7 linked regions of the Homo sapiens genome follow. The protein of the gene in region 3 purifies or fractionates together with the protein of the main gene of each other region. This does not show direct contact. Each region holds a gene or a part of one and is shown on either strand. Other genes may lie near its edges.

Region 1 (2,617 bases), on a different chromosome or scaffold from region 3:
AACGTATAAGCCCTCCGAACCATGTAGGAATCATGGTCTAAACAGACCTTTTTAGCTTGTTAATTGGAATATTTTGTGGCATCCATTCTTATGCTAGTCCAAGAACTCTGGAATCTGTAGAACTGTTGAACCAAATAAAAGGAAGAAACTCTACTGTCAGCACTCAATTAGCTGCGCCGCTGGAGAGGAACAGTGACGTGGTAGATTAAAAAAAAATTGGTTCGGTTTGACTTTGGAATGCACTGATTTTTTTTTCAGTAGATTAACTTTTCTAATTATATTTTGCACAGCCTAATATTAACAGGCATTTGTATTCCCTGGGCACACAACATCTGACATTGAGAGCTGGGAGATGCAGCCCAAAAATGTGCTGGTCTCAGAGAATAACAATGTTATGAAAAATCCATGCGTGGATAATGAAGGGGAAGCTAATTATGAAGTGCTCTGCAAATATTAAATCATAAGCAGAGAAGGCAAAATAGTAATTCTCTATCGACATGTGGACAGAGTAAAAAAGTTTATTAACATTCTGAGAAGGACAGAAATTTTCAAGAATCATCATTAGTGTTAACAAAGCTTGATGAAAAAATTCGGATGCAAGGAGGGTCAATGAGTTATTGGGTGGTCTTTCAAATAAGCAAACCTCAAGCAATAATACCAAAGTGTTTTAAAAGAGCGTTTAAAATGAATTTTATTCTTTGAATTTTACAGGTAGTCTTTAGAGGCTTCAAACAAGAACTCTGTTGCAAAACTCTAATAAATAGCTTGCCCCAAGTCCCCAAACAAAATGTAAAACAAAATGAGAACTAAACTCAGAAGGATAAGCAAGACTTCAGAATGCTTGGATGTTAGCAATATTTCTCATTTACAAAGAGATATCAGGCAATGTACAATCTCCTTCATACAAGTCAAAGAGAGAAAGAGACAGACAATTGAAATCTTCACAAAGCACTCCGAAATCTTCCTATTTCCATGATAGAAATGTCACCAGAAAAAAAAAATTCCATGGAGAAATCACAATCAAGAATGAAACTGTAGCATAAAAATCTGGTAGTGAATGTAGCAGGGAGAAGAGAGGAAAATCCATCCTGTTTCTTTCAGGGATGGAGAGAGGAAGGAATTGAGATTACTTGGGTGAGGGAACTTCCAATCAGATGCCGCTAGAGTGCTGAATGTTCCCTTAGACCAGAGTTGCCACTGAAAGGGCAGAGGGGTCGGTTTAGTGACAGTTATGAAGGCAACAAACAAAGGGGTCTCCTCAGGTCAGTCAACACTGGCCAGCCCCATGTCTCTGTGCTCTACAGCAGCCTTGGAAGAGTGACCCAGGGGCCCAAAGCAGCCTGCATCACAAGACAGCAAAAATAGCACATCAATAATTTCTGCAGCGGAATCCTTTGGATGGCCATGAAAGGATGCAGAAAATGCCGTGCTGAAATTTCACACTGGGACATGCAGGTTTCAAAAGCCCATTCTAGTATCACAGTCATTATTCCTAACAAGCAATGATTAAAATTCACAATTAAACATTCACTGTTAGCTTCTCCTAGTTACAAATACTGGTGAAGTCTTGCTCTGGAGAGAAAGATTAATTTAGAGATATGGTCATTTTCAGCAAGCTAAAAAAACCAGTTGTGCCACATTTTTATCTTTAAAAATCTTTAAAACGTATACTTTTGACCAAAATGCATTCAAAATGCAGACAGATAAGGTTTTAGTTTGGGGGAATTCTGAAATCAATTAATGTTTGGAGCCAGGAAGCTGTAAGAGAGATTGATTCCAATTTAGTGGGGCTCAATTAAGCCAAACAAAAAAGAGTCTTGCAGCACAAGTGGGACCATCTTCCTGGGGAAAGGGAGAAGCAGGAAATGACCTCACAATGCAGGACTGAGAAGGGGTGTGGCCTGCAGGCACTGTCAGAGCTGCTCTGGTTTACAGACTTGCTGTTAAATATTTAACTCCGGTCCTGCTGATCTCTGGAGGACAGGTACAGACAGCACTAGCTCATGCACGAGTCATTCAAGGGAGGTAGGCATTTTCTCAAAGCAACTCCCTCTCCAGGCATTTTAGGGAAGAAGGTAAGGAAATATCCCTCTCTACTCCCCAAACAAGTTATAAAAACATTCTTTTTCTAGGAATAATGATATTTGTTAGAATAACAAGGGAAAGCTTGGGTTACCTGAAGTTGATAAGAAAGCTGATGGGAATAGAGGCGGATGGGCCAGGGGGCGCCCTGGTCCAAGGCCCAGTTTCTTCTTAAATACATAACAGATAAAGATATTGTGCAAAAAAATAAAGACATTCACATTTTAGCAGTTAAACTTTTATTTTACTGTTTAAAATTTTTATTTACTTTTTTTGTTTTTCTTTTCTACAAAAGGCAGGTGATGATTGTTGATCTGCAACTATTGTGTTGTGCACTCCCCGAAAGGGGGCAGAGTAGGAAGCCAGGGAAGGTGCTCTGAGGATGCTTTCTATGGAGGGAATAAGGGCTGCAGGACACTCACTGGAGGGAGTGTCTGGGCCCTTCTCCTGTCCTCCTCAGCCTTCCCTAGCTCATGTCTATGGTGTTGAAGACCCATTCTGTGAACTTCTTCAGCTTGTCCGAGGCGTTCTGGGA
Region 2 (4,160 bases), on a different chromosome or scaffold from region 3:
ACACGGAGACCCTGTTCGTATGCACATTTGGGTGCTTGAGCAGGGTTGCGCCCAAGATTCTGTGGTTCTACGGAGCCCTGAGTGGTGCCCTGGGCAGCTTTCCTCTGGGGTTGGTCAACTTTGATCACTGCACCTAACGAGAAAGGGACCATGAAATCTAATCAGCAAATACAGACAAGCAAGGGGCCATTTCCCACAATCATTTCCACGGAAACACCACGTCGGATACGTAAGTCTGATTGCAGGACAGGGACTGTGCTTCAGAGATGCAGCTTTCGCAGCTGGACGAATGACCCGGAATCTCCCCAAATGCCATTTGTAAGCACACCAAATGAGGTTTATTTCAGGGCTTTCTGAATTTATTTCAGTTGAATACACACACTCCTGTGTTTGATTTCCTTTATTATCAATACGACTTATTTCCAAATGACTGACATGCCAGTGGGAAAATTTTCCATTTCGACTCATTGGAATTGGACATCGTGAAACAGGCAAGTCGGTCTGTCTGTTTCCGGCGTTATGTGGGTTCCAGCAAGAGCACAAGTCCCAGGGCGCCTGAGGTCCATTCAGAAACCAATGTAAAAACGGTGAGCCAGGGTAAGAAAGAAGAGCACCGTTCCTATCTTCTAAATGCATTCCAGTTTCCACTATTCAAGGTGGCGAGAATGATCCATGGATGTGCCACATGAGCAAAATTTCACCTTCTCGTGCCGCCCAACAACTGACGAATGAAACACACCCCAAGAGAAAATAGGAAACCGAGTCCCCTGCAATAACCTCACACTCAAACCTACACGTCAGTAGGTCATATTCAGAAATACACAGTGAATGTCATCTACCATGAACACAAACACACAGACAGTCTCTCCAGAGGTTCGGAAGACTCACGACCCCAAAACTTGATGTTTCCCATGTGTGGGCTCATCCTGAGATGCAGCCATCACTATCCAGTTGTCCCTGTTGTAGAGACAGAAACTTGGACTCCTCATTACTTTATGTAGGATTGACGGTGTTCGTGTTTGTGTGTGTGTGTGTGTTTGCGTGCGCGCTTGTGGGTGTATTTGTGCGTGTGTGTGTGTGCGTTCACCCCTACGTGTGGGTCGGCACTTCCACTGAGATCACTGGCACACAAGCAGAGCCCTCTTGCTGTGTTTGTTCTTCCCTTTGGATCTCCTGGTCCTCCCTTGCAGAGAAGCGAGGGTGCCAGTGTTCACGGACTCCTGATCTGTCCGGGTCGTCGAAGAGAGGTTTAGCAGGGAGCTTTGCTGTTCAGGATGATGGTTTTTCATCCCACACTTGTATTTCGATTGATGAATCACAAGTACGTTGGGAGGCAGGGTACCTTCGACTTTTCTGACGTTGAACTCAGGCTTCGTTTTGTTTTGCTCTTGGGGGAATTTCCAGTGGTCTAAGGTGCTTTCCTGAGTGGCTCTTTCCACCAAGCGCTCGTCCAACTCGGGTGCCTGGAGGCAGGGGTGGTCTCTCTTGAGCTCTCCTTGCGTTGCTCGCCTGTCTGTGTCTTCAGCGCCGAGGGCTCTTGGTTCCCTGCCTCTTGACACACTCTCACTGTGTCTTTCCCATTCACTCTTCTGGATGTAAAAGAGGACATAGGCCTGTTGACTCAGGACAGAAGTGATGCTACAGGCAGTGACCTTGGCATCATCCATTTTATACCACTGGCCTTCTTGAGCTTTGACATAAGAGAAGTAATGTCCGTCGTGACAACTCCACCCAGCGTGGACCAGCACAGCATAGAGGACATAGACAAGAGGTCCTGTGTTCTGCTGAGACATGTATGGCTGCATGTCAAGGCACTCAGGATATTGCACATTCTTGGCAAGTTTGTTGCCTGTGACATCGGAGAATCTCTTCAAGACAAGGATGAGGACCTTGGCAGAAGTGTGTAAAGTTAACGTCTTGGAGGCCGGCGCCCTCTGGAGACAAAGACCGCAATGATAGGCATTCTCTCCATTGAGTTCTTCGGGCTTCACCAACTGTTCCAAAGCTTGCTTGACACTCTGAGCTGCCTGGATATCCAGGGCGATGTCCAGGTAAGGGTCAAAAGTGTCTGAAATCCCGTGGCAGTGGAGACACTTGATTTGAGATCTCCAGCAGCCTCCAAATATTTGGTGGATGAGGGTGGTGTCCTTAGAGTGATGATCTACCTGCTTGTGGCCGGGAAGGCATGCCTTTTTCATGGCATCCACAGTGAACATGAGAAATTCATGGGCATCTTCCTGCTTGCCTCTATGGAAGCCAGCAGCCAATGCCTGTGAGGGCTGGATGACATGACCAGGACTGTGGAGGGCCCATGTGATGTGAGCTTGCATAGTACAGAGCATGCAGCACTTGGGACGCTGACATGTTTGAGAGTGCTCCCGGGACAGCATGTAGTTGGCAAGGGGCGGTGTGTATGTCAGGCACTGCAGGGAAGCGTTCTCGTAGCAGGTATTTCCCATATTCTGGAGCCCAGCCCCCACCGCAGCAGGTCTCCTGCTACTCAGAGGAAGCTTCTTCCTGGGAGCAAGCTGTCTTGCCACAGGAGCCAAATCATCACAGAGGTCGACACGGGCCTCAGATGAGAGTGGTGACTTCTCAGGGAGAGAAGTCCGCTGGATTTCAGCAAAAGCTGCATCTGGCCGAGAAGATGTGAGTTTTGAAAAGTGGTTGAACTGCCACTCACCTCCCAAGTAGAGTGAGTCGTCCTCCATGTCGCCCGCAACAAGGATCACAAGGTTTTTCTGCTGGGACTGCAGGTTGCAGCAAGACGCTATCTCTTCCAAGAGAGTCTTCAAATGACGAGCTCTCTGGCCGCATCAGCCCTTATATAACTCACCCCCACCAACCGCGAACACCCCACCCACCCATCAGGTGTGCGATAAACCAATCAAATATCAGCACTCAATTAAGGAATGAGTCACAGGGTGTGTCCCCTTGCATCGCTGGGAATTCAACAGACACAGCCCACATCATGACTTCTAGAACACCTGAATCAAATTACTCCTCAGGGTGATAGGCACATATAATATGAGTGTAACCGGGTTGGGACAGTGGCCACACAGTTGCCTTATTTTAGGTAAAAGAATGTCAGGGAAGAAATCTTTACCTATGAAACCGTGTGTGTATCTCTCTGTGTGTGTGTGTGTGTGTGTGTGTTTGTGTGTGTGTGTGTGTGCTTGTGCTGGGATGAACTTCCAAGTATGTACTTTTGGCAGCTACCGTCATCCTCTCATCGACGGAAGGACAAGAAGTCTGAAGTGCGCTTTCTGACCTGAGAATAGTCAATGAAGTATAGTATTTAGCACAGCGTATTTTCTTCCTTAATAATAAAGGAGATATCCGTGGCATCAAACAGACCTTCCAGGGATAACCTTTCCACGTTCAGCCTATTGACTCTCTATCCGAGTGAAATTACTGGCCAGTGGAGAACAAGACAAGTCTTTGCATGAAATGCTCTTGTGGAAGCTAGGCTGCCAAATAATAAAGCATCAAATGGTAGAAACATGCACTGAAGTTTGAAGAGTTACTCAGTGCACAAAGTAGGCTGTGAAAGACTTTGGGGAAATCATGCAATCACCGAGAGACTAATTGATGACATTCCCCAAATTTATGTGTGCCAGAAAAGAGAGATGGTCCTGACATTGTATAGTGAGTGGTTTCGGACGTGCGGCGGCAGTTTAAGAAAACTTGAAACAAAAAACTTGAGAAATCCAAAGGTATCCCAACTATAAGCTTTTGTTTATTAAAGAACTGATGAAAATAAAAACAACGTATCTCACAGCATGGGTGATACTATTTCCATACTTACGTGATAATGGATCAACATTTCATAGAGATGAAATAAAAAGTTCTAATTTTGACAAAAGCAAACAAGGAAAATTATACCGTAGAAAAGCCCGGGTGACGGGAGTGAGGCCCTGTCTGAAGAAGAAAACATCGGAGACGTTTAAAAGCAGTGAGTGAAACAGAGGGTAGCATAACCTTTTTAATACTGGCTCTTGTTTCACTGGGAAATGGCAAAAATAAACCGTGTATCTCCTGGATTCTCGCATCGGTTGTTCATGCTCTGAGATGTTCCCTCCATTTCCAGTTATGCATTGTATGGTGGAATTGCAGTTAGCACCTTTGATGCAAAAATTGTAATGCTGACGAAAGTGGAC
Region 3 (3,500 bases):
ATGAAGATAAAGTTGATCATGGTTTTTTTTTTTTTTTTTTTTTTTTTTTTTTTTGAGACAGAGTCTTGCTCTGTCACCAGGCTGGAGTGCAGTGGTGCGATCTCAGCTCACTGCAACCTCTGCCTCCTGGGTTCAAGCAATTCCACTGCCTCAGCCTCCCCAGTAGCTGGGACTATAGGCGTGCACCACCACACCCAGCTAATTTTTTGTATTTTAGTAGAGACGGGGTTTCACCATGTTGGCCAGGATGCTCTCGATCTCCTGACCTCGTGATCCACCTGCCTCGGCCTCCCAAAGTGCTGGGATTACAGGCATGAGCCACCGCGCCTGGCCACTAAGTTGATCATGTTTTATTTAGGTTTTTGGTTTCTAGGATGGAGGGAAGACCTGGAGTATGTTCAATTATTGGATAGTCTTATATGTGATTTTTTTTAATTGCAGTAAAATGTACATAATATTTACAATTTTAACTATTTGTGAGTGTGCAGTCTAGTGACAGTAAGTATATTAATAATGTGAGACTATCACCAGAACTCATTTCCAGAATTTTTTCATTATTCAAAACAGAAGCTGTATACCCTTAAGTGATAACTCCCCATCCCTGTTTCTGCCCAGCCAATGATAACCTCTATTTTCTGTGTCAGTGAATTTGACTATTCTAGATACCTCATATGAGTAGAATAATATTATATTTTGTCCTTTCATGTGTGTGTGTGAGGTCTCACTCTGTCACCTCTGCTGGAGTACAGTGGCACAATCATAACTCACTGCAGCCTCAAACTCCCGGGCTCTGATTATTCTCCCACCTCAGCCTACCAAGTAGGTGGGACTGCAAGTGTGTGCCACTATGCCTGGCTACTTTTTTTTTTTTTTTTTTTTTTTTTTTTTTGAGACAGAGTCTCACTCTGTCACCCAGGCTGGAGTGCAGTGGTGCAATCTTGACTCACTGCAACCTTTATCTCCCAGGTTCAGGTGATTCTTATGCCTTAACCTCCCTAGTAGCTGGGATTACAGACGTGTGCTACCATGCCTGGTGAATTTTTTTGTATTTTTAGTAGAGACGGAGTTTCACCATGTTGGCCAGGCTGGTCTTAAACTCCTGGCCTCATGTGATCTGCCCACCTCAACCTAATTTTTTTGTATATTTTGTAGAATCAGGGTTTTGCCATGTTGCCCAGGCTGGTCTCAAACTCCTGGGTTCAAGAGATCCATCTGCTTCAGCCTCCCATAGTGCTGGGGTTACAGGTGTGAGCCACTGCGTCCAGCCTATATTTTCATTTAGCGTAATGTCTTCAAAGTTCATCTATGTCATAGCATGTATTAGAATTTCATTTCTTTTGTATGTATATATCATATTTTGTTTATCCATTCATCTGTTGATGGACATTTTGAGTTGTTTCCAACCTTTTGGCCATTGTGAGTAATGCCGTTATGAACATAGGTGTACAAAATCTGCTTGAGTCCTTGCTTTTATTTTATTTTGTGTATTTTTTTTTTCCAAGATGGAGTCTTTGCCCTGTCACCCAGGCTGGAGTGCAGTGGAACGATCACAGCTCACTGCAACTTCCACCTCCCTGGTTCAAGCAGTTCTCCTGCCTCAGCCTCCCAAGTAGCTGGGATTACAGGCACATGCTACCATGCCCGGCTAATTTTTGTATTTTTAGTAGAGATGGGGTTTCAACATGTTGGCCAGGCTGCTCTCGAACTCCTGACCTCGTGATCTGCTGGCCTCGGCCTCCCGAAGTACTGGGATTACAGGCGTGAGCTACTGCGCCCGGCCCCTGCTTTTAATTCTTTTGGGTATATATTCAGAAGTAGAATTGCTTGATTACATGATAATTCTACATTTAATTTTTTGAGGAACTGCCATGCTATTATCCATAGAATGCCTCTGCACCCTTTTACATTCCCACCAGCAATGCACAAACACTTGTTATTTCTTATAATGGCTATCCTAATGGGTATAAAGAAGTATCTCTTGCAATTTTCATATGCATTTCCATAATGATTACTTTGTTGAGCATCTTTTGATGTGCTTATGGGCCATTTGTATATCTTCTTTGGAGAAATGTCTATTCATGTCCCTTTTGATTGTTATTGTTGTTGTTACTGAGTTGTAGGAGTTCCTTATATATTCTGATATTAATCTCTCATCAAATATAAGACTTGCAAATGTTTTCTCCCATTTTGTGGGTTGCCTTTTCATTCCCTTAATGGTGTTCTTTGATGCACAAAAGTTTTCCATTTTGATGAAGACCAATTTATCTGTTTTTTTCTTTCGTTACCTGTGCTTTTGGTGGCATTATCCAAATCCAGTGTCATGAATTTTTTCCCTTATCTTTTCTTCTAAGAGTTTTATAGTTTTAGCTCTTACATTTAGAACTTTGATATATTTTGAATAGTTTTTAATGTTGTCAATATACTTGACAGGACAATGGAAACTTGGTGGACAGTGAAATGAAATATTTGGGCAGTCCCATTACTACTGTTCCAAAATTGGATAAAAATCCAAACCTAGGAGAAGACCAGGCAGAAGAGATTTCAGATGAATTAATGGAGTTTTCCCTGAAAGATCAAGAAGCAAAGGTAAAGTGTTCTGTGGTAGTATCTTTGTATTCTTCATATTCCTTCATTCTGTTAAAAGAAGAACTAGACAAATTAAACTTAGGAGAGTTTATTTGAGCAAAAAAATAACTAGTGAATCCAGCAACCCTCATAGCCAGAACATGTTCAGTAAAACTCCAGTTTGCCATGTGGTCAGGCAGTATTATGGACAGAAAATGGAAATGAAGTACAGAAAATAGAAGTGAGGTACAGAGACAGCCCAGTTGGTTGCAGCCTTGAGTTTGCCTTATTTGAACATGGTTTAAACAGTTGATTGCTTGTGGTTGACTGAAGCTCAGCTGCTGTGCTTTCCTGAGACTCAGCTTTTTGATACAAAAGTATACTTCTAAATTAGGCTTTCAGTTAGTTTAAGTACTAAGTTAGGTTGCAACTTGGTATATAAAGACTCAAGTACAGAGGCATCCCCAGGCCAAATTTAGTTTAATTAAGAATTCATTCTTCTTTTTTTTGTTGTTTGTTTTTTTTAAGACAGATTCTCGCTCTGTCGCCTAGGCTGGAGTGCAGTGGCGCCATCTTGGCTCACTGCGACCTCCTCTTCCCAGGTTCAAGCGATTCTCCTGCCTCAGCCTCTCGAGTAGCTGGGATTACAGGTGTGCACCACCACACCCGGGTAATTTTTAGTATTTTTAGTAGAGACAGGGTTTCACCATGTTGGCCAGGCTGGTCTTAAACTCCTGGCCTCAGGTGATCTACCCACCTCAGGCTTCCAAAGTGCTGGGATTGCAAGCGTGAGCCACCATGCCCAGCCAACAATTCATTCTTGAATAAACATTTTATGCCTGATATGTATGAGTCACTCTACTAAATGCTAGAGCTACAGAGATCAACAAGATGTGATAACCTATCTTTATTTATTTATTTATTTTTGAGATGGA
Region 4 (3,500 bases), on a different chromosome or scaffold from region 3:
AAAAATTAAAAAATAAAATTAGCTAGGCATGGTGGCATGCGCCTATAGTCCTAGGTACTTAGGAGTCTGAGGTGAGAGGATCGCTTGGGCCGAGGAGGTTGAGGCCATAGTGAGCTGTGATCGTGCCATACTGCACTCCAGCCTGGGACACAGAGTGAGACCCTCCCTGGTTCTAAAAAAATAGAGGGCTCTCATGTGGGCAGCTGCATGGGTGGTTCATTGAATAGCTGGACACTGGGTAGGTGTCTTTGGCCTAATGACTCATGGGCCATTAGGTGAGTGATTGGGGGATGGGGAGATGTTGGGGTGATTAATGGGTGGATACCAGATAGGTGGGTGACAGACCCCGGGAGGGTGGAGAGTGAAGAGGGCAGGCCTCGATCGGCGTTGACCGCAGAGGGAAGGATCTTAGCAGGAGGGGTGGTGCTCCCTGGGCTATTGTTTGACCGGATATATTGGGTAGGTCACTGGTTGTGTGGATGAATGGATGCTGGGGTGGTGGGTCCCAGCTGGTGCCCGGAGTGAAGGGGACATAGCAGCTGCCTGGCAAGTGCTGGGCCCTGTGAGAGGCACAGAGGCAACCCCTCACCATCCCTCCCGCAGAGCGGCAACAAGATATCCCTGCGGACCACAGCCCTGGAGAACACCTCCATCAAGGTGGGCCCCGCCCGGAAGAATGTGGCCAAGGGCCGCATGGCACGCAGGAGCAAGAGGAGCCGTCGGCGGGAGACCCAGGATCGGTGCGCGGCAGTGACCACCAGGGAGCGGTACACAGGGGGCGGGGCCACGGGGACTGGGGTTCTTTTTTTCTTTTCTTTTTCCTTTTTTTTTTTTTTTTTTTTTTGAGACAGAGTCTTGCTCTGTTGCCCAGGCTGGAGTGCAGTGGCTCAATCTCGGCTCACTGCAACCTCCACCTCCCGGGTTCAAGCGACTGTCCTGCCTCAGCCCCCTAAGTAACTGGGACTACGGCGTGCACCATCATGCCCAGCTAATTTTTATATTTTCAGTAGAGACAGGGTTTCGCCATGTTGGCCAGGCTGGTCTCGAACTCCTGACCTTAAATGATCCATCTGCCTCGGCCTCTGAAAGTGCTGGGATTACAGGTGTGAGCCACCATGCCTGGCCAGGAGCAGGGGTTCTGAAGCCTCCGGTTTTCTTACCCCAGGCGGAAGTCACTTTTCAAGAAGATCTCCAAGCAGACCTCCGTGCTGCACACCAGCCGCAGCTTCTCCTCCGGACTCCACCACTCACTGTCATCCAGTGAGAGCCTCCCCGGCTCGCCCACCCACAGCCTCTCCCCCAGCCCCACCACTCCCTGCCGAAGCCCAGCCCCTGATGTCCCAGCAGGTGGGTGCACCCCGACCCCCCACCACCCCGGCTACCCTGGGAGCAAGGGCTGGTGGGCCCCAGGAGGGAGGAAGGAGTTCAGGGGATGGAATGACACGATGTAGGGAAAAAGATGACCGGGATCCTGGTGTCTAGCAGGGAACCTGGGAGTACTTAGAGACGAATGCAGGTGCCAGGGAAGGATGCACCCAGCAGAGGAAACATCATGGACAAATGGGGCTAGACAGGAGGGTGGGAAAACTGAGAAGAGGCCAGGCACGGAGGCTCACGCCTGTAATCCCAACACTTTGGGAGCCCGAGGCAGGAGGATCACTGAGCCCAGGAGTTTGAGACCAGCCTGGGCAACACAGGGAGACCCCATCTGTACAAAACATAAAAAAATTAGGTGGGTGTGAGGCCGGGCATGGAGGCTCACACCTGTAATCCCAGCACTTTGGGAGGCCGAGGCAGGTGGATCACCTGAGGTCGGGAGTTCAAGACCAGCCTGGCCAACATGGAGAAACCCCGTCTGTACTAAAAATACAAAATCAGCCAGGTGTGGTGGCACATGCCTGTAGTCCCAGCTACTAGGGAGGCTGAGGCAGGAGAATCGCTTGAACCCAGGAGGTGGAGGTTGCGGTGAGCCGAGATTGAGCCATTGCACTCCAGCCTGGGCAACAAGAGCAAAACTCCATCTCAAAAAAAAAAATTAGGTGGTTGTGGTGGTGCACACATGTGGTCCCAGCTACTCTGGAGGCTGAGATGGGAGGCTCACTTGAGCCCAGGAGGTCAAGGCTGCAGTGAGCCATGATTGCACCACTGCACTCCAGCCTAGGCAACAGAGTGAGACCCCATCTCAAAAAACAAAAGGGAAAAAAAAAAAGAAAACAGAAGTGATACAGAGAAGGCTTTCTGGAGGAGGGGGAGTAGGAGCTGGGGCTTTGATGGGTGAGTGGGAGTTCACCAGAGCTAGGCCAAGGAAACAACCCTGAGCAGGAGGCAGAAAAGTCTGGCATGAACCAGGCATGATGGCTCATGCCTGTAATCCCAGCACTTTGGGAGGCCAAAGCAGGCGGATCACTTGAGGTCAGGAGTTTGAGACCAGCCTGGCCAACATGGTGAAACCCCAACTCTACTAAAAATACAAAAATTAGCCAGATGTGGTGGCACATGCCTGTAGTCCCAGTTACTTAGGGGGCCGAGGCACGAGAATCATTTCAACCTGGGAGGTGAAGGTTGCAGTGAGCCAAGATCATGCCACTGCACTCCAGCCTGGGTGACAGAGCGAGACTCTATTGAAAAAAAAAAAATTAGCCAGCCATGGTGACGTGCACCTGTTGTCCCAGCTACTCAGGAGGCTGAGTTGTGAGGATCACTTCAGCCCAGGAGGTTGAGGCTATGATTGAGCCAGTGCACTACAGTCTGGGCAACAGAGCAAGACCCTGTCTCAAAAACAAAAACAACCAGGCATGATGGGTGGCCACATGGAAGGATGTGGGCTTTAGCAGTTTTTGTCAGTCCCACAGCTCCACTTCTGGGCTGGGGACATTGAGGCCAGCAGCCCTGACCTACGCTTATCACCCACAGATACCACTGCATCCCCACCCAGCGCATCCCCGAGCTCCAGCAGCCCCGCCTCCCCAGCTGCTGCTGGCCACACCCGCCCCAGCTCCCTGCACGGCCTGGCTGCCAAGCTTGGGCCACCCCGCCCCAAGACTGGCCGCCGCAAGTCCACCAGCAGCATCCCGCCCTCCCCGCTGGCCTGCCCGCCCATCTCCGCGCCCCCACCCCGCTCGCCCTCGCCCCTGCCCGGGCACCCGCCCGCACCTGCCCGATCCCCGCGGCTGCGCCGGGGCCAGTCAGCTGACAAGCTGGGCACAGGGGAGCGGCTGGATGGGGAGGCGGGGCGGCGCACTCGTGGGCCAGAGGCCGAGCTCGTGGTCATGCGGCGGCTGCACCTGTCCGAGCGCCGAGACTCCTTCAAGAAGCAGGAGGCCGTGCAGGAGGTTAGCTTCGATGAGCCGCAGGAGGAGGCCACTGGGCTGCCCACCTCAGTGCCACAGATCGCCGTGGAGGGCGAGGAAGCCGTGCCAGTAGCTCTCGGGCCCACCGGAAGAGACTGATCCCCTGCCAGGTCTCTCCCTGGCATCAAAGTTACGCGTTTTCTTGTGCAA
Region 5 (3,500 bases), on a different chromosome or scaffold from region 3:
TGCAGCGAGGGGTTGGTTATAGATGGAGGCACCCGTGTAGCTTGGAGCTATGCTGCAACTGGTTTCCTGGAGAAGGTGGTTTGGAAAGTGGAACCTGAAAGATGGACAGGACTTGGGAAGTATGGAGGAGTAGGGCCAACATGAGGTTGAAGAGCCTGGGGTACATGTTGGGGTGAGTGGGACACGCCAGTGCCTGACACGTGCCTGCCGCCAGGTTTTAGGTACCTAATAAATCTTTGCTGAAAGGAAGGAAGGAGCAGGGCGGGAGAGGTCAGGCTCAGGTGGAGGCAGGAATGATACTCCAAATATTAATAACCATCCGGCATAGGGACTGACCAGTCAGAAAGGACACTGGATATAGACAGCCAGCACCGCTGTACCGGTGCATACCAGTGAAGGGATGGTGCAGAGGCCAGTATACCAGTGAAGGGATGGTGCAGAGGCCAGTTTGAGCAGAGCATGAACTTCCAGTTCCACCAGGGAACCAGCCCAGCCCGTCTGGACCATGGTGTGAAGCAGCAGAGGATCAGGCCCTAAGTCAGATACACTGTGCTCTGAGCCAGACAGTGTCACTGGGGGCTGCCTGGAAGAGGTGATGGGTTACCAGAAGAAGGCTCCTCTCTGTTTTGTAAAGTCAGGTCCATCTGGGGGACTAAGCAAGCAGGGATCACTGAACCCCTGTTCTGAAAAGAGGAGAGGGGTTTTGCCTTGCCTGGCCCAAGCCACATTGAGGGAGTGAAAGAGCTGTGGGCGGTAGGCCAGGCTGCGTGTCTGGGGTCTTGTCTGGGGCTGGGTACCCTGGGGCTTTGGGGTCCTTCTGAGGGATCCAGACTCTTCTGGGACCCAGCCACACCTAGGTGGAAAGAGGGGCTACGGATGCGCTCAGCATGGCTTCCAGCCACCTTTGTATACCTGGAGCTGGGCCGCTTCCACCACGGTTGCAAGGATGGAGGAAAAGCAGAAAGGACTGGGGAGACTGGTGGGGTGGAGGTTTCTTCCTTGGAGAGCTTGCAGAGATGCCACCTGCCAAAGCCTGGGGACCAAAGGAGGGGGTTCTTGTTTTAATTGTTCTTATAAAGGTAATACACACCAGAGAGAACATTCTAATAGTTCTAAAAGGTGTGTACAGTGAAAAGTCTCCAATTTACAGCATTTTGTTATAGAAAAAAAAAAAAAGTAACTCTCCATCCTTCCCACCCTTAAGTTTCCCCTCAGAGGCAGCCTTCATTATGAGTTCTTTTTTTTTTTGAGACGGGGTCTTGTACTGTCACCCGGGCTGGAGTGCAACGGTGCAATCTTGGCTGACTGCAACCTCCGCCTCCTGGGTTCATACGATTCTTCTGCCTCAGCCTCCCAAGTAGCTGGGATTACAGGCGCACACCATCACACCCGGCTAATATTTTGTATTTTTAGTAGAGATGGGGTTCACTATGTTGGCCGGAGTGGTCTTGAACTTCTGACCTCGTGATCCACCCACTTCGGAGTCCCAAAGTGCTGGGGTTACAGGTGTGAGCCACCGTGCCAGGCCCATTATGGGTTCTTACTATATTCTCCTTGGGTCGGGCCTGGTGGCTCACACCTGTAATCCTAGCACTTTGGGAGGCCAAGGCGGGTGGATCACGAGGTCAGGAGATTGAGACCATCCTGGCTAACACAGTGAAACCCCGTCTCTACTACAAATACAAAAAATTAGCCACGTGTGCTGGCGGGCGCCTGTAGTCCCAGCTACTAGGGAGGCTGAGGCAGTAGAATGACATGAACCCGGGAGGCAGAGGTTGCAGTGAGCTGAGATCGCACCACTGCACTCCAGCCTGGGTGACAGACAAGACTCTGTCTCAAAAAAAAAAAAAAGAAAAAATGTTCTCCTAGAGATGCTGTCTAGGAGATGTTATAACACATGTACAGGCATATGTTATATAGAACTATACACATTTACTCACATTCACGGCCTCTCTAATAGTTGTAGTTGCATATCTATTTTATTTATTTATTTTGAGACAAGAGTCACACTCTGTCGCCCAGGCTGGAGTGCAGTGGCACAATCTCAGCTCAGTGCAAACTCTGCCTCCCAGGTTCAAGTGATTCTCATGCCTCAGCCTCCCAAGTAGCTGGGATTACAGGCACCCACCACCACGCCGGGCTAATTTTTGTATTTTAGTAGAGACAGGGTTTCGCCATGTTGGCCAGGCTGGTCTCAAACTCCTGGCCTCAAATGATGCACTGGCCTTGGCCTCCTGAAGTGCTGGTATTACAGGTGTGAGCTACTGTGCTTGGCCTGCATACCTTATTTTAAAGCTTCCTTTATTTTTTTCACGGTGTCAGGGTATTCTATTGTGTAGATGTAGGATAATGTATTTAACCAGCTTCCCACTGATGGACATTCAGATTGTTTCCCATTCCTTGATACTACAAAAAAAGGCTACAATGCATAGTCTTACAAATGGGTGTTATCTGTAGAGCAGATTCCTAGAAATGGAGATTTTGGGTCAAATGGTAGCCATGTAAAATTTTAATCTAGGCCGGGTGCGGTGGCTCACGCCTGTAATCCCAGCACTTTGGGAGGCCGAGGCGGGCGGATCACGAGGTCAGGAGATCGAGACCATCCTGGCTAACAAGGTGAAACCCCATCTCTACTAAAATAGAAAAAATTAGCCGGGCGTGGTGGCGGGCACCTGTAGTCCCAGCTACTTGGGAGGCTGAGGCAGGAGAATGGCGTGAACCCGGGAGGCGGAGCTTGCAGTGAGCCGAGATCATGCCACTGCACTCCAGCCCAGGTGACAGAGCGAGACTCCGTCTCAAAAAAAAAAATTTTTTTTTTAATCTATATTGCCAAAGTGCCCTCTGAAGATTATAACCATACCAATTTATTTTACTTTTTTGAGATGGAGTCTTGCTGTGTTGCCCAGGCTGGAGTGCAGTGGTGCAATCTCGGCCCACTGCAAGCTCCGCCTCCCGGGTTCACGCCATTCTCCTGCCTCAGCCTCCCAAGTAGCTGGGACTACAGGCGCCCACCACCACTCCTGGCTAATTTTTTGAACCATACCAATTTATACTCCCAAGGGTAACATACAAGAGAGCCCATTTCCCCTCGCCCTTTCCCACATTCTGGCTTAGTAAGACTTTTCTCTTTGCCTGTGTGATTGGTGAGAAGGTGTCTTAAGGTAGTTCACTTTTACATTTTTCTCAAGGTGGTGAGGATGAACTCTTCTCATGTTTAAAAGCCATGTGGTCTAAAGCCAGAAGAGAGAACTGTTAGACTCATGGGGAAATGGGTTTGGTGTGAGTAGCTCCAACAGGGAATAGTTGGGTCTTAGAGGAAAAAACTACAGTTTGTCTTGGAGGGAGCCTCCTCTTGCTAAGACCCCCACCACCAGGGCTAAGGATTGCTTAAATCAGTGGTGTTCAAACCTGGTTCTGAGCTGCCTTCTCAGGGGCTGAGGATAGGGACAGGACCAGACCCTGGGGCTCTCACCCCCAGCCTGGGCCTGAGCAGCTTCTTG
Region 6 (3,500 bases), on a different chromosome or scaffold from region 3:
GCCAGGCATGGTGGTGCATGTCTGTAGTCCCAGCTACTTAGGAGTCCAAGGTGGGAGGATTGCTTGATCCTGGGAGGTTGAGGCTGCAGTGAACTCTAGCCTGGGAGACACATCGAGACCCCAGCTCAAAAAAGCAAAAAGCTTTATAAACATTACGCATTCCCTACTTCTTTGCTGAAATGAGACTACCTAGCCTAGCTGCTGAAGTCTTTTAAATCTACCTTTGTATTTCATTGATTCCTTTTATGAAAAGATACCTGTGTTCATTGCTTGGCTGCTGAGAGTAGGGGTGCAAATACCATTCTTCTACCTCAACCTAAGAAAGATTCTTGGCCAGGCATGGTGGCTCACGCCTGTAATCCCAGCACTTTGGGAGGCCGAGGCGGGCGGATCACCTGAGGTCAGGAGTTCGTGACCAGCCTCAACATGGAGAAACCCCGTCTCTACTAAAAATACAAAATTAGCCCGGTGTGGTGGTGCATGCCTGTAATCCCAGCTACTCGGGAGGCTGAGGCAGGAGATTCGCTTGAACCCGGAAGTGGAGGTTGCAGTGAGTCGAGATCGCGCAACTGTACTCCAGCCTGGGTGACAAAGCGAGACTCCATCTCAAAAAAAAAAAAAAAAAAAAGTCAGGCTTGGTGGCATATGCTTGTATTAGTAGTTCCAGCTACTCAGGAGGCTGTGGTGGAAAGATCGCTTAAGCTCAGGATATCAAGCCTGCAGTGAGCCATGATTGCATCACTGCACTCCAGCCTGGGTGACAGAACAGGACCCTGTCTCAAAAAACAACAAAGAAAACTTCACCACAACATCATTTATATTATTAAATAATTACAGTCAGCTTAAGTATATCAAACATTAGAGGAATGGTAAATGAATTATGATCTACCAACTTGATACAAGTATTATGCAGCAACTTGAAAGTATGTTTATCAAGACTTTCATAATAAGGTTAAGTCATTATGTTATAATGTTAAGCAAAGAAAAGAAGGTTACAGAATTCTGTATTCAAAATGATTTCAACTCTGGGGAAAAATGCATATTAAAAACACTCAAAGGAATGTGTAATACTTAGTGTGATTCTGGAATCTGATTTTTTTTTTTTTTTTTTGAGACGGAGTTTCGTGCTTGTTGTCCTGGCTAGAGTGCATTGGTGCAATCTCGGCTCACCACAACCTCTGCCTCCCAGGTTCAAGTGATTCTCCTGCCTCAGCCTCCCGAGTAGCTGGGATTACAGGCATACACCACCACGCCCAGCTAATTTTGTATTTTTTAGTAGAGACAGGGTTTCTCCATGTTGGTCAGGCTGGTCTCCAACTCCCAACCCTAGGGGATCCGCCCGCTTCGGCCTCCCAAAGTGCTAGGATTACAGGCCTGAGCCACCATGCCTGGCCGAGTCTGATTATTAATAAAACTGCATTTGGGCCGGGCGCAGTGGCTCACACCTGTAATCCCTGCACTTTGCTGACATGGGCAGATCACGAGTTCAGGAGTTCAAGACCAGCTTGGACAATATGGTGAAACCCCATCTCTACTAAAAATACAAAAAAAACTGACTGGCATGGTGGCGTGCGCCTGTAGTCCCATCTGCTCAGGAGGCTGAGGTAGGAGAATTGCTTGAACCCAGGAGGCGGAGGTTGCAGTGAGCCAAGATTGCGCCACTGCACTCCATCCTGGGTAACAGAGTGAGACTCCGTCTCAAAAAAAAAAAAAAAAAAGAAAGCACAAAAAACTGCATTTGCGGTCGGGTGCCTTGGCTCACGCCTGTAATCCCAGCACTTTGGGAGGCCAAGGCAGGCAGATCACTTGAGGTGGGGAGTTCGAGATCAGCCTAGCCAACATGGTGAAACTCCATCTCTACTAAAAATACAATAATTAGCTGGGTGTGGTGGCTGGCACCTGTAATTCCAGCTACTCGGGAGGCTGAGGCTCGAGAATCACTTGAACCTGGGAGGCGGAGGTTGCAGTCAGCCAAGTTGGTGCCACTGCACTCCAGCCTGGGTGATAGAGTGAGACTCTGTCTCAAAAAAAAAAAAAAATACTGCATTTGTATAATTACCTTGTTCTTTTCCAGAGTCAGATTGAGGCAGAACTGAATAAACATTGGCGGCGATTGTTAGAGGGGCTTTCTTACTACAAACCTCCCAGGTATGGCAGTTCCGGGTGTCTGGTTAAAGTAATTGTCCTAAGGAAGCTGACATGGATAAAACCATCCTTCTATGTGCTTTGATGATATTGTAGGGTTATGTATACCAGAGATAATACAATTTAGTTTACCAGTGGAAAACAGTAGGGTACATTTGTTTTTTTGTTGACCGAAAGAAAAGGAAATTCCTTCTAGAAATACAGTATTGTAGAATATAATTATGACCTATGTGTGGGGATGAGAATTTATTAAACATTCAACGAATTTTCTAATATTTATTCAGAGTCCACAGTGTCTGTGTGAGTACTAATTGGTGGGAGATAGCAGTGAAGGATGATGCTAACAACTGACACTTGTGTAGTGTTAACTATGTAACAATTAATACTCTAAGCACCTGACTTATCAAAAGTTATTTAATCCCCACAACACCCCTTTGAGATAGTTACTACTTTTATTCTTTGGGTGAATATATAGATCTTTTTATTGGGTAGTGGAAAACATAGTAATAAAATATAAAGTAGTTGCAAATAAAGAGAATGCAGCTTGTAGGGCTGGGCTTATTTGATCTTGATTCCTAGTCCAGATCTCATTCTATTATGCGTTATAGTCTAAGTCACCCTCATTTCCCTTCTACTTTTGTACTGCTTTTGAATGTATTACATCTTTACCTTCCATTTTCATTCTCTTAGGTTAACGATGAACTTTTCCTTGTTATTCATCTGTCTGTTAATTCTTCCCCTGTAATTACCTTAAAGTAAATCCCAGATACCTTGTTATTTTATCTGCAAATACTTGACTATGTATCTAAAATACATGGACTTTTTAAAAAGATAATCTCTATATTATCACATTTAGGTACCCTTATCATTGTTTCCATTTTACCAGTGGGGAAACTGAGGCACAAAGAGGTTAAGCAACTTGTCATGGTCACACAGCTACTAAGTGATAGAACCAGGATTTGACCCTGGTGGTCTCATTCCAGTGTCTGTTCTTTTTTTTTTTTTGAGATGGGGTTTTGCTCTGTCGCCCAGACTGGAGTGCAGTGTCACATCTCAGCTTACTGCAACCTCCACCTCCCGGGTTCAAGTGATTCGCTTGCCTTGGCCTCCCGAGTGGCTGGGATTACAGGTGCCCGCCACCACGCCCAGCTAATTTTTGTATTTTTAGTAGAGATGGGGTTTCACCATGTTGGCCAGGCTGGCCTTGAACTCCTGATCTCAAGTGATCTGCTCACCTCGGCCTCCCAAAGTGCTGAGATTACAGGCGTGAGCCGTCATACCCAGCCTATTGTTTTCTTTACTATCTTTTTTCTGTTCCAGGATCCAACCTAGTTGTCAAGTGCCTGTAGTCTCCT
Region 7 (3,500 bases), on a different chromosome or scaffold from region 3:
ATTAACTCCTGATATTCCATTTATTCATTTTCTGTTATAAATGAGGTTGTTAAAAGTATTTGTGCACAAAGCTTTTTTTTTTTTTTTTCTTTTTGCCTGGCTACCTCTGTCTCCTCCAAAGCTTTTTTTTTTTAATTTAGGATTTTTATTAAGCTAAATTTCTAGTAAAGTCCTAAGACATGGGAATGAATTTCTTTCTTTTACCTTTTTAAATTTGAAAATTTTTATCTTTAGAGACAGTGTTGTTTTGTTGTTCAGGCTGGAGTGCAGTTGGTGTGATCATAGCTCATGGGAGACTTGAACTCCTGGGCGCAAGGGATCCTCCAACCTTGAGTAGCTGGAACTCCAGTAAGCTTCCTGAGTAGCTGGAACTGCAGGCATGTGCCACCACACCTGGCTAATTAAAAAAAATTTTTTGTAGAGATGGGGTCTTGCTACGTTGTTCAGGCTGGTTTCAAACTTCTGGCTTCAAGTAATCCTCCTGCTTTGGCTTCCCAAAGTGTTGGGATTACAGGCTTTGGCCACTGTGCCTGGCCTTTCTTTTACCTTTTGTTTTGTTTTTTTTTTTTGAGACAAAGTCTCGCTCTTGTCCCCCAGGCTGGAGTGCAATGGCATGATCTCGGCTCACTGCAACCTCCGCCTCCTGGGTTCAAGCGATTCTCCTGCCTCAGCCTCCCAAGTAGCTGGGATTACAGGCGCCTGCCACCACGCCTGGCTAATGTTTGTATTTTTAGTAGAGATGGGGTTTCACCATGTTGGCCTGGCTGGTCTTGAACTCTTGACCTCAGGTGATCTGCCCTCCTCGGCCTCCCAAAGTGCTGGGATTACAAGTGTGAGCCACTGCGCCCGGCCTCTTCTACCTTTTGATTGGAGACTGTCATACATTCAGTAAAGGATCTTAAGTGTACTGCTCAATAAATTTTAGGTATGTATCTGCCATGCACCACCTTGCAGGTCCAGTCAAGATACAGGATGTTTACATTACTCAGAAGGCTCCTCATGTCTCTTCTTATTCCTCATGTGTCTTCTTATTCATCATGTGTCTTCTTAGCAATACCCACCCCATTTCCCCTGGCAACGTAATCACTTTTTTGACTTCTGTCACCATCAATCTATCAATTAGCTTTACCTGTTCATGAACTGGAATGAACGTTTTAAAGGCTCTTGATGCACAAGCAGTGGGCATCTCTTTGGGTGATGTGACTTCTTGACTGCTCCCTGCCAGGGCTACAGCACAGTTATCTCTGTAACCCTGGCCTTAGCTCCTTCGGGGCAGGAGACAGCTGCTCACTGCCCAGGCCTGTGCAGGCATAAACAGACTTGGGGATGGCCAGGCCCAGGGTGGGAGGCATATCTTGGGAAGTGGATTTCAACAGGTGACTTGTTTGACCAGGCCCAGCCGCAGCCCCAGCCCCAGCCCCAGCCCCAAGCCCAGTCTCAGCCACCGTCATCCAACAAGCGTCCCAGCAATAGCACGCCGCCCCCCACGCAGCTCAGCAAAATCAAGTACTCAGGGGGGCCCCAGATTGTCAAGAAGGAGCGACGGCAAAGCTCCTCCCGCTTCAACCTCAGCAAGAATCGGGAGCTGCAGAAGCTTCCTGCCCTGAAAGGTACTTGGCAATTGGTCACAGGGGCTGTTTTACCAGTTCTAGTGGGCATCGGGAGTTGGTGGAATGGAAGTTTTGGGGTATTTTGCGGGGAAGGGAGTTCCAGAGAATGCGGGAAGGGGGTGCCAGGGAGCAGGATGGTGGCAGGGTGGGGTAAGGGAAAGCCCTTGAAGGCAAGCAGGGCATCGCAGTGAAGGACTACAGAGGAGAACCTGACTGCTGGGGCCCCCACAGATTCGCCAACCCAGGAGCGGGAGGAGCTGTTTATCCAGAAGCTACGCCAGTGCTGTGTCCTCTTTGACTTCGTGTCAGACCCACTCAGTGACCTCAAATTCAAGGAGGTGAAGCGGGCAGGACTCAACGAGATGGTGGAGTACATCACCCATAGCCGTGATGTTGTCACTGAGGCCATTTACCCTGAGGCTGTCACCATGGTGGGCACAGGGAAAGGACACAGGGGGGACTGGTGAGGGGCTCTGGAGAAGCCCAGGTGGAGCTCTAACTGGCCCTACCCCTCAGTTTTCAGTGAACCTCTTCCGGACGCTGCCACCTTCATCGAATCCCACAGGGGCTGAGTTTGACCCAGAGGAAGATGAGCCCACCCTGGAAGCTGCTTGGCCACATCTCCAGGTACCAGGGCAAGGGGGCAGATTGGCCGTGGCTGCAGGGAGTGGGGCACTTGGAGGCCTGCAAGTCCTTGGGAACATCCCCTCAGTGGCGTGCCTTTTCCCCTATAGCTCGTGTATGAGTTCTTCTTACGTTTCCTTGAGTCTCCTGATTTCCAGCCAAACATAGCCAAGAAGTACATCGACCAGAAGTTTGTACTTGCTGTGAGTCCCCGAGTTCCTGTCCTTGCCCTCTCTTTCCATTCCATGCCCCCTTCATCTGTGTCCCAGTGGCTCTTTCCCCTTAAGCTGAATATATTGGGTTTCATCCATGTCTGGTACGAGGAGGCTATAAAGGGTAAAAAACAAAACAAAACAAAACCCTACTCTGGCCTTAAGAAACTAACAACATAATGGTAGGAAACAAAAAAGCAACAGAGTACCTCTCTCAGGTCAATAGTGAGGCATCACTTTGGAAGTCTCAGTACAAATACAATAGAATCAGCAATATAATAGAATCACTGCTTTCTAAGACTTGCTGGCCCCCACTCCAGGGGACCTCTGCATTTCCCCTGGCGGGACCTATGTCACCCTGGCCACTGCCTTCCCTGGCTGCTGCCTCACTGGCTGCTTTCCCTCCCTTGTACCCCCAGCTCCTAGACCTATTTGACAGTGAGGATCCTCGAGAGCGGGACTTCCTCAAGACCATTTTGCATCGCATCTATGGCAAGTTTTTGGGGCTCCGGGCTTATATCCGTAGGCAGATCAACCACATCTTCTACAGGTGAGGCCAGGAGCCCAGGCTTAGGAGCAAAACCTTCTGCTACTGAGGTGGGGTGGGAGCAGGGAGGTGGGGGGACTGTACAGAATGCTGGAGGGACATCAGGGGTTGTCAAGAGAGCCATTTTTCTTCCCTCAGGTTCATCTACGAGACGGAGCATCACAACGGGATTGCTGAGCTCCTGGAGATCCTGGGCAGGTGAGAGGCCGGGTGGGGGCACAGATGCCTGAAAAAGGTTGGCAGGATTGGTGTACTGAACTTGGATCTGACCCTCTGGTCCTAACAAATGTCCCTTAATTCCTAGCATCATCAATGGCTTTGCCCTGCCCCTTAAAGAAGAGCACAAGATGTTCCTCATCCGTGTCCTACTTCCCCTTCACAAGGTCAAGTCCCTGAGTGTCTACCACCCTCAGGTGAGCTGCCTTCCTCCTTATAATGTCCAACTCAGGCAGCAGAGAAAAGAGCCGGCAGGAAAGTGTTCCAGCTGGGATAGGGGAAGCATAGGGA

Evidence for each region.
Region 1: the proteins of CDC25C (region 3) and SIPA1L1 purify together in Homo sapiens (affinity purification with mass spectrometry, with the first as the bait; one large-scale study listed by BioGRID). This does not show direct contact.
Region 2: the proteins of CDC25C (region 3) and USP17L2 purify together in Homo sapiens (affinity purification with western blotting; one study listed by BioGRID). This does not show direct contact.
Region 4: the proteins of CDC25C (region 3) and MAST3 purify together in Homo sapiens (affinity purification with mass spectrometry, with the first as the bait; one large-scale study listed by BioGRID). This does not show direct contact.
Region 5: the proteins of CDC25C (region 3) and KIF1C purify together in Homo sapiens (affinity purification with mass spectrometry, with the first as the bait; one large-scale study listed by BioGRID). This does not show direct contact.
Region 6: the proteins of CDC25C (region 3) and NUP188 purify together in Homo sapiens (affinity purification with mass spectrometry, with the first as the bait; one large-scale study listed by BioGRID). This does not show direct contact.
Region 7: the proteins of CDC25C (region 3) and PPP2R5D purify together in Homo sapiens (co-immunoprecipitation; 2 studies listed by IntAct). This does not show direct contact.

What each region holds. Positions count from the first base shown.
Region 1 is NC_000014.9:71,739,093-71,741,709, reverse strand, and holds the end of SIPA1L1 (signal-induced proliferation-associated 1-like protein 1), read right to left. Parts: coding exon 2,549-2,617; 3' UTR 501-2,548; downstream 1-500.
Region 2 is NC_000008.11:12,136,050-12,140,209, forward strand, and holds USP17L2 (ubiquitin carboxyl-terminal hydrolase 17), read right to left. Parts: upstream 2,801-4,160; 5' UTR 2,712-2,800; coding exon 1,119-2,711; 3' UTR 386-1,118; downstream 1-385. UniProt on the Homo sapiens protein: Deubiquitinating enzyme that removes conjugated ubiquitin from specific proteins to regulate different cellular processes.
Region 3 is NC_000005.10:138,318,305-138,321,804, reverse strand, and holds part of CDC25C (M-phase inducer phosphatase 3), read left to right. Parts: intron 1-2,430; coding exon 2,431-2,586; intron 2,587-3,500. UniProt on the Homo sapiens protein: Functions as a dosage-dependent inducer in mitotic control. Tyrosine protein phosphatase required for progression of the cell cycle. When phosphorylated, highly effective in activating G2 cells into prophase.
Region 4 is NC_000019.10:18,146,278-18,149,777, forward strand, and holds part of MAST3 (microtubule-associated serine/threonine-protein kinase 3), read left to right. Parts: intron 1-603; coding exon 604-767; intron 768-1,165; coding exon 1,166-1,347; intron 1,348-2,913; coding exon 2,914-3,449; 3' UTR 3,450-3,500.
Region 5 is NC_000017.11:5,007,950-5,011,449, forward strand, and holds part of KIF1C (kinesin-like protein KIF1C), read left to right. Parts: intron 1-3,500. UniProt on the Homo sapiens protein: Motor required for the retrograde transport of Golgi vesicles to the endoplasmic reticulum. Has a microtubule plus end-directed motility.
Region 6 is NC_000009.12:128,950,699-128,954,198, forward strand, and holds part of NUP188 (nucleoporin NUP188), read left to right. Parts: intron 1-2,074; coding exon 2,075-2,148; intron 2,149-3,500. UniProt on the Homo sapiens protein: Component of the nuclear pore complex (NPC), a complex required for the trafficking across the nuclear envelope. Required for proper protein transport into the nucleus.
Region 7 is NC_000006.12:43,005,070-43,008,569, forward strand, and holds part of PPP2R5D (serine/threonine-protein phosphatase 2A 56 kDa regulatory subunit delta isoform), read left to right. Parts: intron 1-1,376; exon of another isoform or gene 1,377-1,393; coding exon 1,394-1,610; intron 1,611-1,841; coding exon 1,842-2,041; intron 2,042-2,126; coding exon 2,127-2,237; intron 2,238-2,344; coding exon 2,345-2,437; intron 2,438-2,865; coding exon 2,866-2,996; intron 2,997-3,131; coding exon 3,132-3,191; intron 3,192-3,297; coding exon 3,298-3,406; intron 3,407-3,500. UniProt on the Homo sapiens protein: The B regulatory subunit might modulate substrate selectivity and catalytic activity, and might also direct the localization of the catalytic enzyme to a particular subcellular compartment.